Homo sapiens: one gene and its partner. The protein of the gene in region 1 purifies or fractionates together with the protein of each later gene. This does not show direct contact. Each region holds a gene or a part of one and is shown on either strand. Other genes may lie near its edges. The genes, in order: PAM16 and TIMM17A.

Evidence for each region.
Region 2: the proteins of PAM16 (region 1) and TIMM17A purify together in Homo sapiens (affinity purification with western blotting; 2 studies listed by BioGRID). This does not show direct contact.

What each region holds. Positions count from the first base shown.
Region 1 is NC_000016.10:4,341,322-4,351,959, forward strand, and holds the start of PAM16 (mitochondrial import inner membrane translocase subunit TIM16), read right to left. Parts: upstream 10,001-10,638; 5' UTR 9,914-10,000; coding exon 9,911-9,913; intron 1,971-9,910; coding exon 1,886-1,970; intron 184-1,885; coding exon 47-183; intron 1-46. Other genes in the region: CORO7-PAM16 protein, read right to left, coding at 47-183, 1,886-1,970. UniProt on the Homo sapiens protein: Regulates ATP-dependent protein translocation into the mitochondrial matrix. Inhibits DNAJC19 stimulation of HSPA9/Mortalin ATPase activity.
Region 2 is NC_000001.11:201,963,666-201,972,965, reverse strand, and holds the end of TIMM17A (mitochondrial import inner membrane translocase subunit Tim17-A), read right to left. Parts: coding exon 9,222-9,300; intron 7,534-9,221; coding exon 7,423-7,533; intron 3,498-7,422; coding exon 3,412-3,497; 3' UTR 2,302-3,411; downstream 1-2,301. UniProt on the Homo sapiens protein: Essential component of the TIM23 complex, a complex that mediates the translocation of transit peptide-containing proteins across the mitochondrial inner membrane.

The DNA of each region.
Region 1 (10,638 bases):
TGGCAGCCTCTCCCTCTCAAACTTTGGGGTGGCCCAGTGGCCTCACCTTCTGGACCTCCTCAGGGCTCAGCTTGGACACGTTGAGAATCTGCTGTGCCTCCTGGAGGCTGAGGCCGGAGAGGTTGGAAGCGGCTGCAGACCGGTGTCCAGCGCGTCCTCGGGCATCAGCTGCGGCCCGGCTGGCTGTGTGGACATGTGGGTGATCGCTCAGTCCTCAGCAGCCCACACTTCACCCTGGGCCTTCCGAGTTGGTGGCTCACCCCTGCCACCAGCACAGGATGAGAGACACAGGGACAGGTGGCTAGGAGCTGCCTCTTCTCCAGGAGTGGTTTCCTTTTTAGGGGGTAGAGGCTGGGAAAGTGAGGACAGACGTGCCTCACTGGAGGGTAAGGGCAGGATCTGACCGCTAATCCTGGCTCCTGGTCCCCAACCTAGACCATGAGATGACCCTGTCCCCCAACCCCCATATCCCAGGGGAACAGCAAATTGGGGAGCTTTAGGCTACGATGGAGACTGTATAGTGGGGCTGCGGGCATGAGAGGGCTCTGCAGGGGCCCAGCTGCCCACCTGTCACCTAGACCACCAAAGCCACTGCCTTGGGTGACCTCTCCCCTTTCAGTGACCCCAGAACCTAGAATCAGGAGCTGCTAAACTTTTCCTAAAGGCTCAGAGAGTAGCTATTTTAGGCTTTGCGGGCTAATGAGCCTACACTGGAACCATTCAACTCTGCCTTGAAAGCAGCCTGTCGGCCGGGCACAGTGGCTCACGCCTGTAATCCCAGCACTTTGGGAGGCCAAGGAGGGCAGATCACGAGGTCAAGAGATCGAGACCATCCTGGCCAAAATGATGAAAACCTGTAAAATACAAAATTACTAAAAATACAAAAATCAGCTGGGTGTGGTGGCACATGCCTGTAGTCCCAGCTACTGGAGAGGCTGAGGCAGGAGCATTGCTTGAACCCGGGAGGCAGAGGTTGCAGTGAGCCAAGATCGCACCATTGCACTCCAGCCTGGGCAACACAGTGAGACTCCGTCTCAAAAGAAAACAAAAGGGCTGGGTGCGGTGGCTCACGCCTGTAATCCCAGTACTTCAGGAGGCCGAGGTGGGCATATCACGTGAGGTTGGGAGTTCAAGACCAGCCTGACCAACACGGAGAAACCCCGTCTCTACTAAAAATACAAAATTAGCCGGGCATGGTGGCGCATGCCTGTAGTCCCAGCTACTCAGGAGGCTGAGGCAGAAGAATTGCTTGAACCCGGGAGGCAGAGGTTGCAGTGAGCCAAGATCGCACTATTGCACTCCAGCCTGGGCAACAAGAGCGAAAACTCCGTCTCAAAAAAAAAAGATTTATTTACAAAACCAGGGCCGGGCGCTGTGGCTCACACCTGTAATCCCAGCACTTTGAGGCAGGCGGATCACCTGAAGTCAGGCGTTCCAGACCAGCATGGCCAACATAGTGAAACCCCGTCTCTACTAAAAATACAAAAATTAGCCTGGTATGGTGTCGGGTGCTTGTATTCCCAGCTACTCAGGAGGCTGAGGGAGGAGAATCACTTGAACCAGGAGGCAGAGGTTGCAGTGAGCCAAGATTGCCCCACTGCATTCCAGCCTGGGCGACAGAGTGAGACTCCATCTCCAAAAAAAGAAAAAACAAGTTTACAAAATCAGGTATCCAGATGGGCCAGTGTGCCAGCTCCTGCCCTGGATGCTCTTGCTAACCAGGTACCACTGAAGAATGCCCCGGTCTGGCATCACCCCCCACCATGGGAAGTGCCTCAGGCCACGCACACTTCAGAACCGCCAGGCCTGAGGTGCCCATGGCTACGGGGAAAATCTGACCTGGAGAGGAACTCCCAGCCCACAGGGGAGACGGACCCATGCTTACCTGCAAACTCCTGCCGCAAGGCCCGTGCAAAGGCCCTGCCCACCACCTGCACGCCCATCACAATGATCTGGGCCAGGTACTTGGCCTGTGGGCAAAGCAGGCACCCGGTTAGCAGGCCACTCCCTGTGGGCCCACAGAGATGGGCCCTGGAAACGGCTGCCGAGGGGCAAGGCTCCCGGAGACCCGAGGTCATGAAGCACAGAGCTGCAGCCCCAGGCCAACCCCTCCAAAGCACCCTGAATGAAAGCTTCCATGGTGGGTGGCTTAGTTACTCACTGGACAGGCAGGCAGGCGGGTGAACTTGACCGAGCTCCCAGAGGCAGACTGGCCCCACCTCATCCTTCAGGAAAGGCGTAGAGGAGCAAGGCAAAGTGGCTGCAACCACCGGCTTCAGGAAGAAACACTGTGGTCTGGGAGCCAGAACACAGGGACAGCCCTGGACCTGGCAGTAACTCACTCTCGACCCTGGGGCCGACCATCACTCTTCCTGAGTTTCTGAGATCATCAGGCCCAACCTTTACTTTACCAACGGGGAAACAGATCTGTCCTAATTCTCCCAAGTCCGAAGACTTTAAGTCCATTCCATTCAATAAAACAAACTTACTATGCAAACCTGTTTCCATCTTCAAGGAGCTAAAAGCCCACTAGGAGGGTATTTAAACACACTATGGACCAAATCATGAGGGAGAGTCAGGCTCGTTCATTTGTGCAGCCATTGGTTCACCCATTCATTCAAACATCTGCTGAGAGTCTACTCTGCTCAGCACTTGAGCACAAAGCTACACAGAACCTGGTCCCTGCCCCGAGTCAGAGCACACTGCTGGCCTGGCAGGGAACCCCACTGTCACACACCAGGCTGAACATGCCGGAACACTGCACGTGTGATTCCATGCCCCGCAGAGGCCCTGGGGACTCACTAAGATGTGAGCGGAAGCAACAGAGTCGAGGGAAAACTCAAGACTGAGATGGGATTCGGTGAGAGGAGGGGGTTCTGTGTGAGAGGAGGGCGTTCCGTGAGAGGAGGGGGTTCCGTGAGAGGAGGGGGTTCCGTGAGAGGAGGGGGTTCTGTGAGAGGAGGGGGTTCTGTGTGAGAGGAGGGGGTTCTGTGAGAGGAGGGGGTTCCGTGAGAGGAGGGGGTTCTGTGTGAGAAGAGGGGGTTCTGTGTGAGAGGAGGGGGTTCTGTGTGAGAGGAGGGGGTTCTGTGAGAGGAGGGGACTGTGTGACAGGAGGGGGTTCTCTGAGAGGAGGGGACTGTGTGAGAGGAGGGGGTTCTGTGAGAGGAGGGGGTTCTGTGAGAGGAGGGGGTTCTGTGAGAGAAGGGGACTGTGTGAGAGGAGGGGGTTCCGTGAGAGGAGGGGGTTCTGTGAGAGGAGGGGGTTCCGTGAGAGGAGGGGATTGTGTGAGGGGGGGTTCTGTGAGAGGAGGGGGTTCCGTGAGAGGAGGGGGTTCCGTGAGAGGAGGGGGTTCTGTGAGAGGAGGGGGTTCCGTGAGAGAAGGGGGTTCCGTGAGAGGAGGGGGTTCCGTGAGAGGAGGGGGTTCTGTGAGAGGAGGGGGTTCCGTGAGAGGAGGGGGTTCTGTGAGAGGAGGGGATTGTGTGAGAGGAGGGGATTGTGTGAGAGGAGGGGGTTCTGTGAGAGGAGGGGGTTCCGTGAGAGGAGGGGGTTCCTCCTGGGCTGGGCTTTGCAGGGTAGGAAGAATCATGATGGAAATACTAGGGCTTTCTAGGCAGAGGGACTGGGTTGAGCCAAAACTGGCAGGAGAGAAGGCAGAAGGGAGTTCCTGCGAGCAGCCAATAGCCTAGGCTGGCCTGGGAAAGACTGGGAATCTGGCGGATGACATGGAAAGATGCACAGATCTTTGTGAAACAAAGCGATTATATATAGACAGCACATACAAAGGATCTTGTGACTGCAAAGCCGTAGACGCAGGGGGGTGGCGCGGGCTGGAGGCAGCTCGGCATAGGTTGAAAGCTCATGTGGCACAGCCGAGTGACTTTCCCTTTCTTCCTAGTGCTTTTCTGTAGATTTGCCTTCAGTCAACAAGTATCAACTGAGTCCACACACCAGGCACGGTGCCAAACACGTTCAATTCATTGTGCCGTTTAATTCTGACAACTCAGGGGTGGGGGACTGCTGACTGGCCCGAGGACGTAACAGCAGGTGCCTCGGAGGCAGATCGGAAACCCAAGGCTGGTGCTATCTGTCACAGCAGTCACTACGCAGGGTCCCGGGGTCTGAAGGTAGGGCACCTGGGCAAGCCGACAAGTATCAAGAACCCAACCCCGAGGCCAGAGGGGCTTGCTCCAGATTCCAGTGGATTCGACTCCAGAGCTGGCCTTGTTCAGCCTCCGAGGACCTGCTCTTTCCTTAACAGGTGGGATGTCATTATGGGCCATTAGGGGAATGAACAAACAAGTGGGTTAAGATTTCAAAAGTAGGTGGAAACTTCATAACTTCTGGATTTCACAGCAGAAAGAGCCCAGAGAAGACCCTCCTGTGATCACAGCGAGGGGCAGGGCTGTGGCTGTACTGCAGATGAGGGAGGGTCAGGGATGCACCTGATGACACCTGCGGTCTCACCTGACTTCGCCTCCTTCCTAAAGCCCCTCCCGAGTGGAACAGGAGGCTCAGGGATGGGATGCTGGTGCTGTCTGAAGGACAGAGGTGAAAGTCAGAGGGTCCCCTCGGCTTGAAACACGGCTCAGGTCTCAGACTACCCCTCACACCAACAGCCTTCGGTCCCTCTGCTGCCATCGTACAGCCTTGCAATCACTTGTTTACTTTTCTGCCAAGGCCAATGACTGTTGCAAAATAATGAACGGTAAGAGCTGAGGTCATAACTGGGGAGCTTCCCCGACCATCCCCTGCACACTTCAAACCAAAGCGGCGTGGTGGCCTGTGGCTTCAGCTGCCTAGAGCTGCAGGGCAGAGGGGGGCTGGCCTGCAAAGTTTCAGCAGACTGGACGGCCCATTGAGGCCAGCAAGGTTCCTATAGGAGGCATCTCTGAGAAGACGCAGTGTAGTGTAATGGTTACACCTGCAGGCTTTGGGATCACCTGTGTGCAAAAATCCCAGCTATCTGACATAGACACGTTCTCAACTCCTTTGAGCAACCCAGTTTGCTTACCTGTAAAATGTGGCCACCAATAAAGCTGAGATAATGCCTGTCAAATGCCTGGCACACAGCCTAATGGTACAGCAGGTGCTCAATAAACATTGGTTTTCATTCATTACTACTGTTTCACAAAATCTGACAATGACCAGGCACTATGAAGTAACAAAGCTTCTTTCAAAATAGCAGCTCATTTGATACAGGCCCTTTGCTTCCTCAGGGGTGAAGGCTGCAAAACACCATACTACATTCCCTCAGGGAGCTGGGAAGCAGCAAGGAAGCAGAACGAGAACCACGTTGACCTGGGACCAGAACCCTAGCTTTCTTTCTCAATAGCTGTGTGACCCTGGACAAATTACTCAACCTCTCTGAATCTTTTTTTGTTTTGGTTTGGGTCTTTTATTTTTTATTTATTTTTTTGAGACTGACTCTCGCTCTGTCACCCAGGCTAGAGTGCAGTGGTTCAATCTCGGCTCATTGCAACCTCCACCTCACCAGTTCAAACGATCCTCCTGCCTCACCCTCCCAAGTAACTGGGATTACAGGTGAACACAACCAAGCCTAGCTAATTTTGTATTTTTAATAGAGACGAGGTTTCACCATGTTGGTCAGGCTGGTCTCAAACTCCTGACCTCAGGTGATCCACCCGCCTCGGCCTCCCAAAGTGCTGGGATTACAGGCATGAGACACCACACCTGGCCTTTTTTTTGGAAGCAGAGTCTAACTCTGTCGTCCAGGCTGGAGTGCAGTGGTGCAATCATGGCTCACTTGCAGCCTCAGCCTCCCAGCCTCAAGAGATTCTCCTGCTTAAGCCTCCCGAGTAGCTGGAGCTACTTGTACTCAGCCTCCGAGGACCTGCTCTTTCCTTAACAGGCGGGATGTGATATGGGCCATTAGGGGAATGAACAAACACAAGTGGGTTAGGATTTCACAAGTAGGTGGAAATTTCATAACTTCTGGAGGCTGAGCACACGCCACCACATTTGGCTAAATGTACTTTTCTGGAGAGATGGGGTTTCGCCATGTTGCCCAGGCTGGTCTTGAACTCCTAGGTTCGCATGAACTGCCCTCCTCGGCTTCCCAAAGTGCTAGGATTACAGGTGTGAGCTACTGTGCCCAGCCTACCTCAGTTTTCTTAACTGCAAGATGGAGAGAATAACACCCTCCTCACAAGAGGACAGTAAGGCCCTCAGGAGGCAATGCCCATTAACACCACATGGACAAACAGCGGCAGGTCCAGAACTAGGCGGTGCAGGCAAGCCCCTCATCCACCTATCCAGTACCCCAACATCCCCTGAGCTTCTGCCATGGGTCAGGCTGAGTTCAGAGCTCATTCACAGGGAGCAGAGCTCTGCCAGCTGTGGCTACCATGGGTGACCAAAACAACCACTGCCTGAGGCCCCTCCCAGAGGCTCCAAACATCCCATAGTCCACCGACTGACACTTGGGCCTGAGGGTCCCAGGTGAGAGGACCCAGCTGACTTGGCATCCAACTTCAGGCCACGCGGCTGTCAGAGAGCAGCAGTCAGAAGCACAGGATCCAATCCTGGCATGCGTGGGGGCAGCATGTGCACTTCGTTGTTGGGCAGCAACCTGGCCCAAGGCAGGACCAGATCCCAGCAGCTGGGACCACAGACAGTGCTGTGGGAGGCACTCAGCAATGGGGCTTACACTGACTTGTGTCTTTGAGATTCGCGTGCAATGCGCCTTTGAGGCCAAGCCCCAGGCTCTGGGTAGATAAGCAGACAGCCTGAGACTCACTCTCAAGGACACTCTGGTCACCCAGGGCCCCTGAGAATAGATACGGGCATCACAACTAGACAGGAGAAAGGTCAGGACCACAACTGTAGCACGTGCCACAACATCAGGGACCTGGCCAGTGGCTGGCGCAGTAAGTGCCCCTGGTGCATCTGAATGAATATGGCTGTTGCAGCTTTGCCCAATCTGCTGTCTCATGAACTCCATGTCCCCAGGCAGGGTTTCCAAGCGCCTCCTAACCCTTCTGCGGGAGGGTTCTGGCCATCTCCCAGTAAACACACAATTCTCCACCGCCGCCTGCAGATTTGGTCCACTCCCCAGCTTGGCATTCACAGCGCCTGGTCTGGCCTCAACTTCTCAACCTCACCTCTCTCCACGCTGCAGCCACACCCTCTGCTCCTAGAGCCGCTCTCATACTTCTGTACTCCTCAGGGCCTTTGCTGTTCTGAGTTCCTCCACCTTGAACATCCTCCCTTCTACCCTGATCCTGTCAAAACCCAACATCCCTCAGGACCTAATATCATTCCCCATCCCCCGGGTGAAACCCTTTCCAGGCTCTCCCATGTATACCTTCCGACAGCACTTTCTTTTTTTTTTGGAGATGGAGTCTTGCTCTGTCGCCCAGGCCGGAGTGCAGTAGTGCGATCTCGGCTCACTGCAGCCTCTGCCTCCCGGGTTCAAGAAATTCTTCTGCCTCAGCCTCCTGAGTAGCTGGGACTACAGGCACACGCTGCCATGCCCGGCTAATTTTTTGTATTTTTAGTACAGAGAGGGTTTCACCGTGTTGCCCAGGCTGGTCTCGAACCCCTGAGCTCAGGTAATCCACCCAAAGTGCTGGGATTACAGGCGTGAGCCACCGTACCCGGCCTAGCACTTTCTTTTTTTTTTTTTTTTTTTGAGACGGAGTCTTGCTCTGTCACCCAGGCCGGAGTGCAGTAGCGCGACCTTCGGCTCACTGCAAGCTCGGCCTCCCGGGTTCAAGCCATTCTCCTGCCTCAGCCTCCTGAGTAGCTGGGACTACAGGTGCCTGCCACCACACCCGGCTAATTTTTTGTATTTTTAGTAGAGACGGGGTTTCACCATGTTAGCCAGGATGGTCTTGATCTCCTGACCTCGTGATCCACCCGCCTGAGACCCCCAAAGTGCTGGGATTACAGGTGTGAGCCACCGTGCCCGGCCAGCACTTTCTTTTCCTGTTAATATACTGTCATGCTGGGTGCGGTGGCTCACGCCTATAATCCCAGCACTTTGGGAGTCCGAGGCAGGAGGACTGCTTGGGCCCAGAAGTTTGAGACCAGCCTGGCAACATGGCGAAACTGCATCTCTACAAAAAATACAAAAAATTAGCTGGGCATAGTGGAGCATGCCTGTTGTCCCAACTACCCGGGAGGCTGAGGCTACTGGGGAGGATGAAATGGGAGGATCACCTAAGCCCCAGGAGGTTGAGGCTGCAGTGAGCTGTGATCGTACCACTGTACTCCAGCCTAGGAGACCCATCTGGGGCAACACAGCAAGACCCCACCTCTACATAAAATTTAAAAATTAGCCAGGTGTGCTGGCACTCACCTGTAGGCCCAACTACTTGGGGGTCTAAGGTAGGAGGATGGCTTGAGCCTAGGAGTTCAAGGCTGCAGTGAGCTAGGATCGCTCCACTGCATCCTAGCCGGGGCGACAGACAGACATCCTATCTCAAAAAACAAACCAAAAAAACCCCATGAGTTTTGGGACAGAGCTGGGCTCAAAAGAGGTCTCTGACACCATGGGATGCATGACTATGGTGGAGTCAAAACTGTCTGGGGCTCAGGTTCCTTATCTGTAAAATAAGGACAATGACAGCAGGACTTCATAAACACTAAATGAGAGACTCTACATAAAGCCTTAGCTCAGGGGCTGGCACTTGTACGCCGTTAGCTGTTACATTATCCTTATTACTATGTTAGTTAAGAAGTGGCTCCCCGAACCAGCTGCAACAGAGTCACTTGGGGAACTTACGTGTGCAGAACCTCCAGGGATAGAGCTCAAGAACCTGAACTTTTTTTTTCCCCCTCTTTTTCTTTTTGAGAGAGTTTTGCCCTGTCGCCCAGACTGGAGTGCAGTGGCACAATCTTGGTTCACTGCAGCCTCTGCCTCCTGGGTTCAAGCGATACTGGCGCCTCAACTTCCCAAGCAGCTGGGATTACAGGTGTGTGCCACCATGCCTGGCTAACATATGTATATATTATGTGTGTGTGTGTGTATATATATATATAAAATACATGATATATAAAAATATATATAACATAATAATATGTAGTATACATAAATGTATACGGTATATATAATACATATATATAATTTTTTTTTTGAGACGCAGTCTCACCCTGTCGCCCAGGCTAGAGTGCACTGGCGGATCTCGGCTCATTGCAACCTCTGTCTCGCGGGTTCAAGCGTCTGTCCTGCCTCAGCCTCCCGGGTAGCTTGGACTACAGGCGCGCACCACCCCACCCGGCTAATTTTTTAAATTTTTTGGTGGAGACCGGGTTTCATCATGTTGGCCAGGCTGGTCTCGAACTCCTGACCTCGTGATCCGCCGCCTCGGCCTCCCAGAGTGCTGGGATTACAGGCGTGAGCCACCGCGCCCAGCCAAACCTGCACTTTTAAAGCTACCCTAGGTGACCTGACAGTGTGGCGCAGGTCTGTTGACTGGCTCTACGTGCCAACGATATCACACAAACGCTCCGTGCTCGGTGTCTCGGGGCCTAGTTCAAGTCCCAGGTCAGCCACTTCCCTGGAAAGGCCAGCTTTCCACTGGGGATAACAACAGGGCAGCAACATCGACTCTGCAGCGCTGTAAGGTTCCAGGGCAGGGGAGGCGCTCACCAGCCAGACTCATGCTCCACCGCTGCCCACGGCTGCTCGCTCACACGCGGGCTAGGCACAGCGCGACCACGTTTGCCCGGCCTCTTCCAGGCAGACGGTTTTCCCTGGCCCTGAGGCCGCCGGTGCCGCCGCTGCCGGCCTCGATTCCCCCGGGTGCAACGCCCCCAGACCATGCTTCCCGCCGGGCACGCAGGGGGCGCACGGCGCCCGCCGCCCAGCCCGGAGCTCGCCGCCCGGCCCCCGGCCCCCGGCCCGACTCGGCTTCCCCTCCCCGGTAGCGCCCGACTCGGGGCTCACCATGGCAGCCGCTCTGCCTCCGGGGCTCAAACTCCGACTTCCTGGCCCCGCGGCCGGGGATCAAGCGTGGTCGGCGGGTCAGAGGTCAAGGAAAGCCGCAGAGAGCGCGTGCGCGATACGGCGCTGGGCATGCGCATTGCCTCAGTCTAAGGGCGGGCCACCGGGAGCGTCTTAGCGGCTCGGGGCGGGGTCGGAGGCGGGGTTTGACTGAGCCTGCGTCGGGCTCTGGATAACTGGGGGCGGGCTTGGGAGGGCAAGGGGCGTTACCGGGAGTCTCAATTGCCCGCGTGCTTACCCCAGTGCGCTGGAGCAGCTAAGCACATCGGTCAGACGTGGGGCGATTTCTGCCCTTGATTTTGCCAAAATATTTGGGAATGCAACATTATATGAAATCAATGAACATAATATGGAGTAGGATGCTAAATTCTCAAAAATACTTTAGAAAATAGAAAACTTCAAAATAGGTTTCATCCACATTCCTCCTGCCTGAGAAGCTCGTTCCCTTCTTCAAATCTTTGCTCAAATGTCACCTCAATGAGGCCCACCTGGACCCCTTAAAACGCCGTGACTTGCCCTCCATGAATGAAAAAAGTAACAGCTTTATTGAGATATAATCCATACACTGTAGATTTCATGATTTTCAAGTGCACAGTCCAATGCCTTTTATTCACAGAGCTGTGCCACTGTCACCACTATTAGTTCCAGAACGTTTTCATCACCCATTAGTC
Region 2 (9,300 bases), on another chromosome or scaffold:
GGTGAAACCTCAAGTCTCGACCCCAAGTGATCCACCCGCCTCAGCCTCCCAAAGTGCTGGCATTACAGGCATGAGCCACTGGGCCCAGCCTGAATAGAATTTGGACAATTAATTTTAACTATAAGTAACATGCCACAGGGTGGAGCTATGACCATGCTTTCATAATTTGCAGACATTTCCTATGTGAAAAACAGATGCACTTTCAATAGCAGGTGCAGCTGTACCCATGTCTTCCAAACCCTGATTCAGAAATCCACTATTTCGGCCAGGCACAGTGGCTCACGCCTGTAATCCCAGCACTTTGGGAGGCCGAGGTGGGAGGATTGAGTCCAGGAGTTCAAGATCAGCCTTGACAATGTGGCAAAACTCTGTCTCTATTTAAAGAAAGTGCTGGCCAGGTGCAGTGGCTCATGCCTGTAATCCTAGCACTCCATCTCAAACAAACAAACAAACAAACAAACAAACAAAAGAGTCTTGTTCTGTTGCCCAGGCTGAAGTGCAGTGGCATAATCATAGGTCACTACAGGCTTGACCACCTAGACTCAAGGGATCCTCCCGCCTCAGCCTCCCAAGCAGCCGGTACTACAGGTGTGCACCCTATCTCTGGCTAAATTTACATTTTGTGGCTAGCGTCTCACTAGCCCAGGCTAGTCTCCAACTCCTGACCTCAAGCGACCTTCCTGCTTCAGCCTCCCAAAATGCTGGGATTATGGGTATGAGCCACCATCCCCAGCTGAACTGTTTAATAAATATTCTAAAACTAAATTTGGTATACTAGAGTAGAGCTCAAGATAAAAAGTAAAAAAACTAAATTGTTTTAATAACTGAAATAAATAACTGGAGAAACAAGCAGATTAGGAAGGAGGTTTTCCCTAGGTCTTTACTGGAATAGTGAAGTTAGTTTCTCACTTTTAAGGTTGAAATGCCCATCAGAAATACCCCATCTGTTTTGCTTTGTATCTGACATCTTGTGCCAAATTGGCATGCAATAGTGGATTACTTTTTTGTTTTGAGACAGTCTTGCACTGTTGCCCAGGCTGGAGTGTAGTGGTGTGATTTTGGCTCACTACAACCTCTTCCCTCCCAGGTTCAAGTGATTCTCCTGCCTCAGCCTCCCAAATAGCTGGGATTATAGGTGCCCGGCACCATTACCAGCTAATTTTTTGTATTTTTAGTACCCACCGGGTTTCACCATGTTGGCCAGGCTGGTCTCGAACTCCTGACCTCGTGATTCACCCTCCTCAGCCTCCCAAAGTGCTGGGATTACAGGCGTGTGCCACCGCGCCCAGCACTTTCTTTTATATTTTTGAGACGGAGTCTCGCTCTGTCGCCCAGGCTGGAGTAGTGGCAAGATCTCGGCTCACTGCAAGCTCCACCTCCCGGATTCACGCCATTCTCCTGCCTCAGCCTCCAAAGTAGCTGGGACCACAGGCGCCCACCACCACGCCCAGCTAATTTTTTGTATTTTTAGTAGAGACGGGATTTCACTGTGTTAGCCAGGATGGTCTCGAACTCCTGAGCTTGTGACCTGCCCGCTTTGGCCTCCCAAAGTGCTGGGATTACAGACGTGAGCCACTGCACCCGGCCAGACTCTTGTGTCTTTAAAAAAAAAAAAGTTAAACCTAGAACTACCATATGACTCGGTAATCTCACTCTTATGTATATATCCAAAAGAACCAAAAATAGGAGTTGAAACAGATAGTTGTACACCAATGTTCATAGCAGCATAATTCACAATAGCCAAAAGGTAGAAACAACCTAACTGATCATCAAATAAAATGTAGTATATGCACACTATGGAATATTATTCAGCCCTAAAAATAAATTTTGCTACATGCTACTACATGGACCTTAAAACACGCTAAGTGCATTAAGACGGACACACAAAAACAAATATTTTATGATTCCACTTATATAAGGTACCCAGAAAAGGCAAATTCACAGACAGAAAGCAGAATTGTGGTTACTAGTGGTTGTGGCGAGGAAAGAATGGGAAGTTATTATTTAACAGGTACAGAGTTTATGTTTGTGAAGGCTGGACATGGTGGCTCATGCCTGTAATCCCAGCATGGGGTGTGGGAGGCTGAGGCAGAAGGATGGCTCGAAGCCAGGAGTTCGAGGCTGCAGTAAGCTATGACTGTGCCACTGCATTCCAGCCTGGGTGACAGAGTAAGACACTGTCTCTAAAAACAAAACGGAGTTTATGTTGATGATAATGAGAACATTTTGGGTATACATAATGGTGGCTGTTATACAACATTATGACTGTATTTCAATGCCACTGAATTATACACTTACAAATGGTTAATAAGTATTATTTTATGTATATTTTACCACAGTCGAAAATTCCCAAATTATCCAAACACAATCAGTAATTAAATGCCTACCATATGTATGGCATTGGGCCAAAAGATAAACGTGTGTTTACAGTACCCACATGGCTTTGTTCTCCATTTCCCACAGATGTAGGCAAATGTGTAATTAACTAACATCATGCCTCCTATAGGGCCACATGTCACTTCCAATATCAGGAAAATGACCTGTTCTGAAGTGCTCATCCATTTTCCAGGCCCAACCAGACCCCAAAATACATCGTTTATGCAGAGGACTTGGAACACATTCAAAACAGTACATACTTTATTTTCAAGCATACAAGAAACACTAAACTCTTCCAGTGCCAGTACACTCTCCATGAATTCTTCATATAGAATTGGGTATATTGGAAGCAAGTTGTTTCTGGTGAAATTTCTGATGATCAGGAATCAAGACTCAGTAGCCCTAAAGGAAGAGAGTTTTGTATCCAATATCCTCAAAACCAAGACATAGTATATTTTACTTTCAAAGTAAACTATAAACATTTTACCATATCCTTCAATCCATAAAGCATCTCACTGTGAAATGATCCATGTTGACTCTGCATAATTCTCAGAAGTCACTTCAAGTGATGAGGGACTAACTATAAAACATGCATTATTTGAAGTACATGAGCATGAAACATCGAAGTCTACAACTTATCTTAAAAGAAAGAGTAAGTTCCACCAGCTTTTTATTGTTTGAATAACAGAACACACAAAACCAGGCAGAGAAGTCCGCAAGGAGATGATGATCATATTTCACTGTTTTTTGGCCTTTTGGTCCTTCATCTTTCAAGCACTTACTGTATTTTCCTTTAGCGATTTAAACATTTATTTTGATCACAAATGCAATTCAAGTGTGAATAAATAAACGTATTATCTTTTAGCACCCTTCCCCGCTTGTTCCTTTAAATAGAAAAAAGTGCTAAATGTCTCTTTATAGCCTATTGGCCATAGCTGTCCCACCTATGGTTTTAAAAACAGACTGTAACTTGATCTTCTGAAATCCTTCTCGAACCACAACTCGTTCTGTTAAAGAAATCCTAGGAAAGAAGTCCTACTGATATTGTCGATAGTCTCCAAAAGGTGAGGAAGGTAACTGAGTTGAAGGCAACTGGGAGGGGTCTTCTGCAAACTGAGGACCTGCAAGTGAGAAATAAAAAGGATTTAAAAATCACCTGAATATTATATTATTAAAAAGAACAAATCTCTATAGAGAGTAAATCAATCAACAACAAAAAAATGTGCTAAATTAAAGCTATAACCCTAAATTTCTTTATAGATCTGCCTAATTCCCATAAGAGTACTGGAGAACCTTCAAATTTGGTATAACATATGACAGACTGGCTTGCTATGCTCCAGAATGAACAGTTTTCAAACACTATGCTAGGAAAGTCAGACGGATTAATTATAGCAAGAAGCAAACTTCAAGTTTTTAAAGCAATTGCTGTAACAAGCTGCCATATATCAAGATTAGAAGAGTTTCTCCCACTTCTTGTCATATTTTTCAGTAGCTATTTAAAATTATTTTCACAAAGTATAAGTATCCTAGTCATGTTTTAAGAGAACTTGGTAATCCAATTTATATAACCAATTAAGTAGGGAATGAGCTCTGAAATGGGAAGACACCCCCTAGCTTACTGTAGAACAAAGTCTTGCAGTTTTCATTTTCAAAGGATAGGAGAGCCTGTGAACTAAGTAAAACAAAGTGGCTTAAAAAAAAAAAAAAGACTTTTAGGGGATGAATCAATCTTTTCTCCTTTAAGAAAAACTGAAGTAGACTAAAAAATATCTGGAAGGAAGAGAGAAAGAGGGCAGTGGCAGAATTCTCTGAAGTTTTCAAAGTGTTTCACTCATATATTTTTACTTCACTATAAATGCAACTATCTGTTAATTACAGAAAACTTGAGAAGATACTGGGTAAAAAAGATAAGCTGGGGCCGGGTGCGGTGGCTCTCGCCTGTAATCTCAGCACTTTGGGAGGTTGAGGCGGGCAGATCACCTGAGGTCAGGACAACATGGCGAAACCCCGTCTCTACTGAAAATATGAAAATTAGCTGGGCATGGTGGAGGGTGTCTGTAATCCCAACTACTCAGGAGCTGAGGCAGGAGAATCACTTGAACCTGGGAGGTGGAGGTTGCAGTGAGAAGAGATCGCGCCATTGCACTCCAGCCTGCGAGACAGAGCAAGTCTGTCTAAAAAAAAAAAAACAAACAAAAACAAAAAAACCCCAAAAAAAGATAAGCCGATGAAAACCACTGTTGCCATTTACATACAGTTCTGTCTAACCTTTTTTCACTGTTTTAAAAACTTTTTTGCTGGGCGCGATGGCTCACATTCCCAGCACTTTGGGAGGTCAAGGCGGGCGGATCACGAGGTCAGGAGTTCGAGACCAGCCTGACCAATATGGTGAAACTGCATCTCTACTAAAAAATACAAAAAAAAAATGAGCCAGGTGTGATGTTGCGCACCTGTAGTCCCAGCTACTCAGGAGGCTGAGACAGAAGAATCGCTTGCACCCCGGAGGCGGAGGGTGCAGTAAGCTGAGATTGCACCACTGCAATCCAGCCTGGGCGACAGACCGAGACTCTGTCTCAAAAACAAAACAAGACAAACTTTTTCATGTAAGTTCACTGGAAAAATATGATTAAGTTTTCAAAGATTTCCCCCCTACACAGCTTTTCAGAAACACATCTCTTGTCTAAAAATAAATACACCTCTTTTAGGCTGCTTCTATATAAATGCTGAGTTTTAATTACTAAAAAGGAGATTCCAGCTGGGCACGGTGGCTCACCCCTGTAATCCCAGCACTTTGGGAGGCCGAGGCAGGGAGGATCGCTTGAGCCCAGGAGTTTAGGATCAGCCTGGGCAGAGACCTCATCTCTACAAAAAATATAAAAATTAGCCGGGCATAGCGGTGCACACCTATAGTCCCAGCTGCTCAAGAGGCTGAGGTGGGAGGATCGCCTGAGCCCAGGAGGTCAAGGCTGCAGTGAGCCGAGATTGCACCACTGCACTCCAGCCGGGGTCACAGAGATTCTGTTTCAAAAAAAATTAAAATAAATAAATAAATAAATAAAATAAATAAATAAAAAGGAGATTCCCTCTGAGGAAAAAAGCCTAAAACAAAGTACTCAAGGCTAATTTCTATGAGACAATGTAACTATTTAAGTTAACTATATCCATTTCTGAATTTCTGTGAATATGGAACTGTTTTGATGTTTTATGTAAAGTCTTTCACACTGAAGCAGTCAAAACAAAATTGGAAAGTGACCATCACTACAGAGTGTTAACTCAGAAGTAAGGAATGAAAAACAAACAGAAGGTGAGAGGGTCTGCAGGGTCATCTAGATTACTCACTGCCATTTAACGAGCAGTGCACTTGAAAATTGTGCCAAAAAGATACTGAATCTCTTGCTAGGTGCCTCAGGGAAATCAAAGCAAATTGGGATGTATGATCTATTCCTAACTTTATGCTGAATCTTTTCCAAGCTCCAAAAATAATTTTCAACATGTCTCACTATTCTACGTATTTTTTTCCTTCCCAAATGCCAGGTCAAATTTTCACTACTACTATCCTCACTATATATATATACACACACACACACACACACACACAACATATATAATATACAACATATATAATATATAACATATATAATACATAACATATATACAACATATAACATACATATTATATAACATATATAATATATAACATATATAGCATATATATAACATATATATGTTATATATATATATATTTTTTGAGATGGAGTCTTGCTCTGTTGCCCAGGCTGGAGTGCAATGGTGTGATCTCAGCTCACTGCAATCTCTGCCTCCCAGGTTCAAGTGATTCTTGTACCTCAGCCTCCCAAGGAGCTGCGATTACAGGCGTGTGCCACCATGCCCTGCTAATTTGTATTTTTAGTAGAGACGGGGTTTCACCACGTTGGCCAGGCTGCTCTCAAAACTCCTGACCTCAAGTGATCCACCTGCCTCAGTCTCCCAAAATGCTGGGATTACAGGTGTGAGCCACCGTGCCCGGCCACCTCACAATATCTTTTTGCATCCTTCCATTGTCAAGGGATATTTTCATTTAGACACTGAAATTTTTTTTTAAGAGATGGGGTCTTGCTCTGTTGCCCAGGCTGGCCTTGAACTCCTGGGGTCAAGTGAGTGGCCTCCTGAGTAGCTGGAACTACAGGAATGCACCATCTTGATAGAAGTTTTCTGTTTGTTTCATTTTGAGACAGAGTCTCGCTCCATCGACCAGCCTAGAGTGCAGTGGTGTGATCTCGGCTCACTGCAACCTCCACCTCCCAGGTTCAACTGATTCTCGTGCCTCCTGAGTAGCTAGGACTATAGGTGTGAGCCATTATGCCTGGCTAATCAGCTGAGAGCACATTCTATAACCATGTAATGATCATTCAGCCCACAATTTAATTATTACCCTATGCATCATATAGGAGGAACAACAGGCAACAAATTAAACCAATATAAAAATTAGCCGGGCTAACACATTTTCTAAGATACTTCTACTGTGAACCCTAAAGTGACCTTCCCAAATATGAGTCACTTTCCACTATTCTCTTCTTCAAAACAAGCAACACTATCTAAAATAAGCTAATTTATCTGTTAATGTGTTAGTCTGTCTCCCCCTACCAGAATGTAAGTCCTTGAGGGCAGGAACTGTCCTGTTCACTACCTAAAACAGTGTCTGGCATGTAGATGTACAATACTAAATTGTCAATTGACCATCATGATTGTTATACATCTGCAGAACCATTCTTCAAGTCCCTTTAAAATGATCAGACATTTCTTGCAAGACATGAGCACTGATAAACCCTAAGTACTATAAAGAAAGATCAACAGCAAATTTATACAAAAAATTTTTGTTTTTGTGGCTAAATATAACATGTTCATTTTTTACCTATTATCACAGTCCTCATGAACCACAGCATATTAATACATACCACACATTTTATCACACAAAGTATGTTCTTTCTTAACATCAGAAAACCATTCCAAAATGTTTGAGCTATAGTTTTAAGCAAAAAGACTCACCATTGGGAAACTGTGCAGAGGCAAATCTTGTCAACAAGATACCAGCTCCTTCAATTAAAGCTAGGAGAATGCCACCCATTGCGGCTGACCCAACCATGGCCACTGGTCCATCTGAAGACATTAATAACAAAGAGATTATTTTTTACAGAAATCTAGTTTACTGTAAGAGATAGTAAAGAAGAGAACTGTCCATATGGTGACATGCTCCCCCAACTCCCAAACTCTTTCTTATTGCCTAAGACCCAGAGTCAGTAAACTACAGCCACCCACAGTCCACCCACTGCCTATTTTTGTAAATAAAGTTTTACTGAAAGGCCATAAATCCCAGCACTTTGGGAGGCTGAGGCAGGCAGATCATGAGGTCAGGAGTTCGAGACCAGCCTGGCCAACATGGGGAAACCCCGTCTCTACTAAAAATACAAAAATTAGCTTGACGTGGTGGCGGGCACCTGTAGTCCCAGCTTCTCAGGAGGCTGAGGCAGGAGAATTGCTTGAACCCAGGAAGCAGAGGTTGCAGTGAGCCGAGATTGTGCCACTGCACTCCAGCCTGGGTGACAGAGTAAGACTCCGTCTCAAGAAAATAAATAAATAAATAGGGCCGGGCGCAGTGGCTCACGCCCGTAATCCCAACACTTTGGGAGGCCGAGGTGGGTGGATTACGAGGTCAGGAGATCGAGACCATCCTGGCTAACATGGTAAAACCCCGTCTCCACTAAAAATACAAAAAATTAGCCAGGCGTGGTGGCACACACCTGTAGTCCCAGCTACTCGGGAGGCTGAGGCAGGAGAATCGCTTGAACCCGGGAGGCAGAGCTTGCAGTGAGCCGAGATTGCGCCACTGCATTCCAGCTCGGGCGACAGAGTGAGACTCAGTCTCAAAAAAAAAAAAAAAAAAAAAAAAAAAAAAAGAAATAAAATAAAATAAATAAATAAATAAAGTTTTACTGAAACACAGCCATACTGTTTCGTTTATGTATTATCCATGGCTGCTTTCATGCTATGACAGCAGATTTAGGTAGCTATGACAAAGACCACACAGCCCACAAAGCCTAAAATATTCACTATCTGGCCTTTTACAGAAATAGTTTGCAAATCCCTTGGTCTAAACCACTAAGCTCAAAGGAATTCTCTGTCCTGAGGATCCAGAAGATGGTTCTAAGTTCCTTATTCATAACAACTCTATATGGCAGGTGTAATTATTAATTAACTCCAGATTACTGGTGAAGAAATTATAGCATAAAAAGTTTGGTAAACTGACCAGTCATACAGCTAATTAATGGCAGAACTGGGACCTGAAGTGCTCTCAACCACTGTAATATATGGGTTAGAATTCCATGCTCTTTCATTCTCAAATATTCCAAATAAATAGATCCCCTTACTTTTTTTTCAAATCACCATATACTGTATATTTATGCTATGCCAAATTAAACAATGCTCAGTTTTATAATTATTATTTTTTTTGAAGCAGGGTCTCACTCTGTTGCCCAGGTGAGAGTGCGGTGGCTCAAGTGATCCTCCTGCCTCGGCCTCATGAGTAGCTGGGACTATAGGCATGCACCAACACACCCAGCTAATTAAATTTTTTTTTTTGTAGAGACCAGGTCTCCCTATATCTGATCTCAAGCTCCTGGACTTGTGCAATCTACCTGCCTCAGCCTCCCAAGTGATGGAATTATAGTCATGAGCCAATGTGCCTGGTCAATAATCAGTTTTATATATTACAGATGTCATTCAATTGAGGCAGATGAGGTTTTCCTAAAAGTGTGGCTTCTACTAGTATGTCTGTAATGACTACTTACTTCTTGCTGCCAGTATGGCTCCCGTTAAGGCACCACTTGTGATGGAGTTCCAGGGATCTTCCTTTCCTCTGACTTGAAC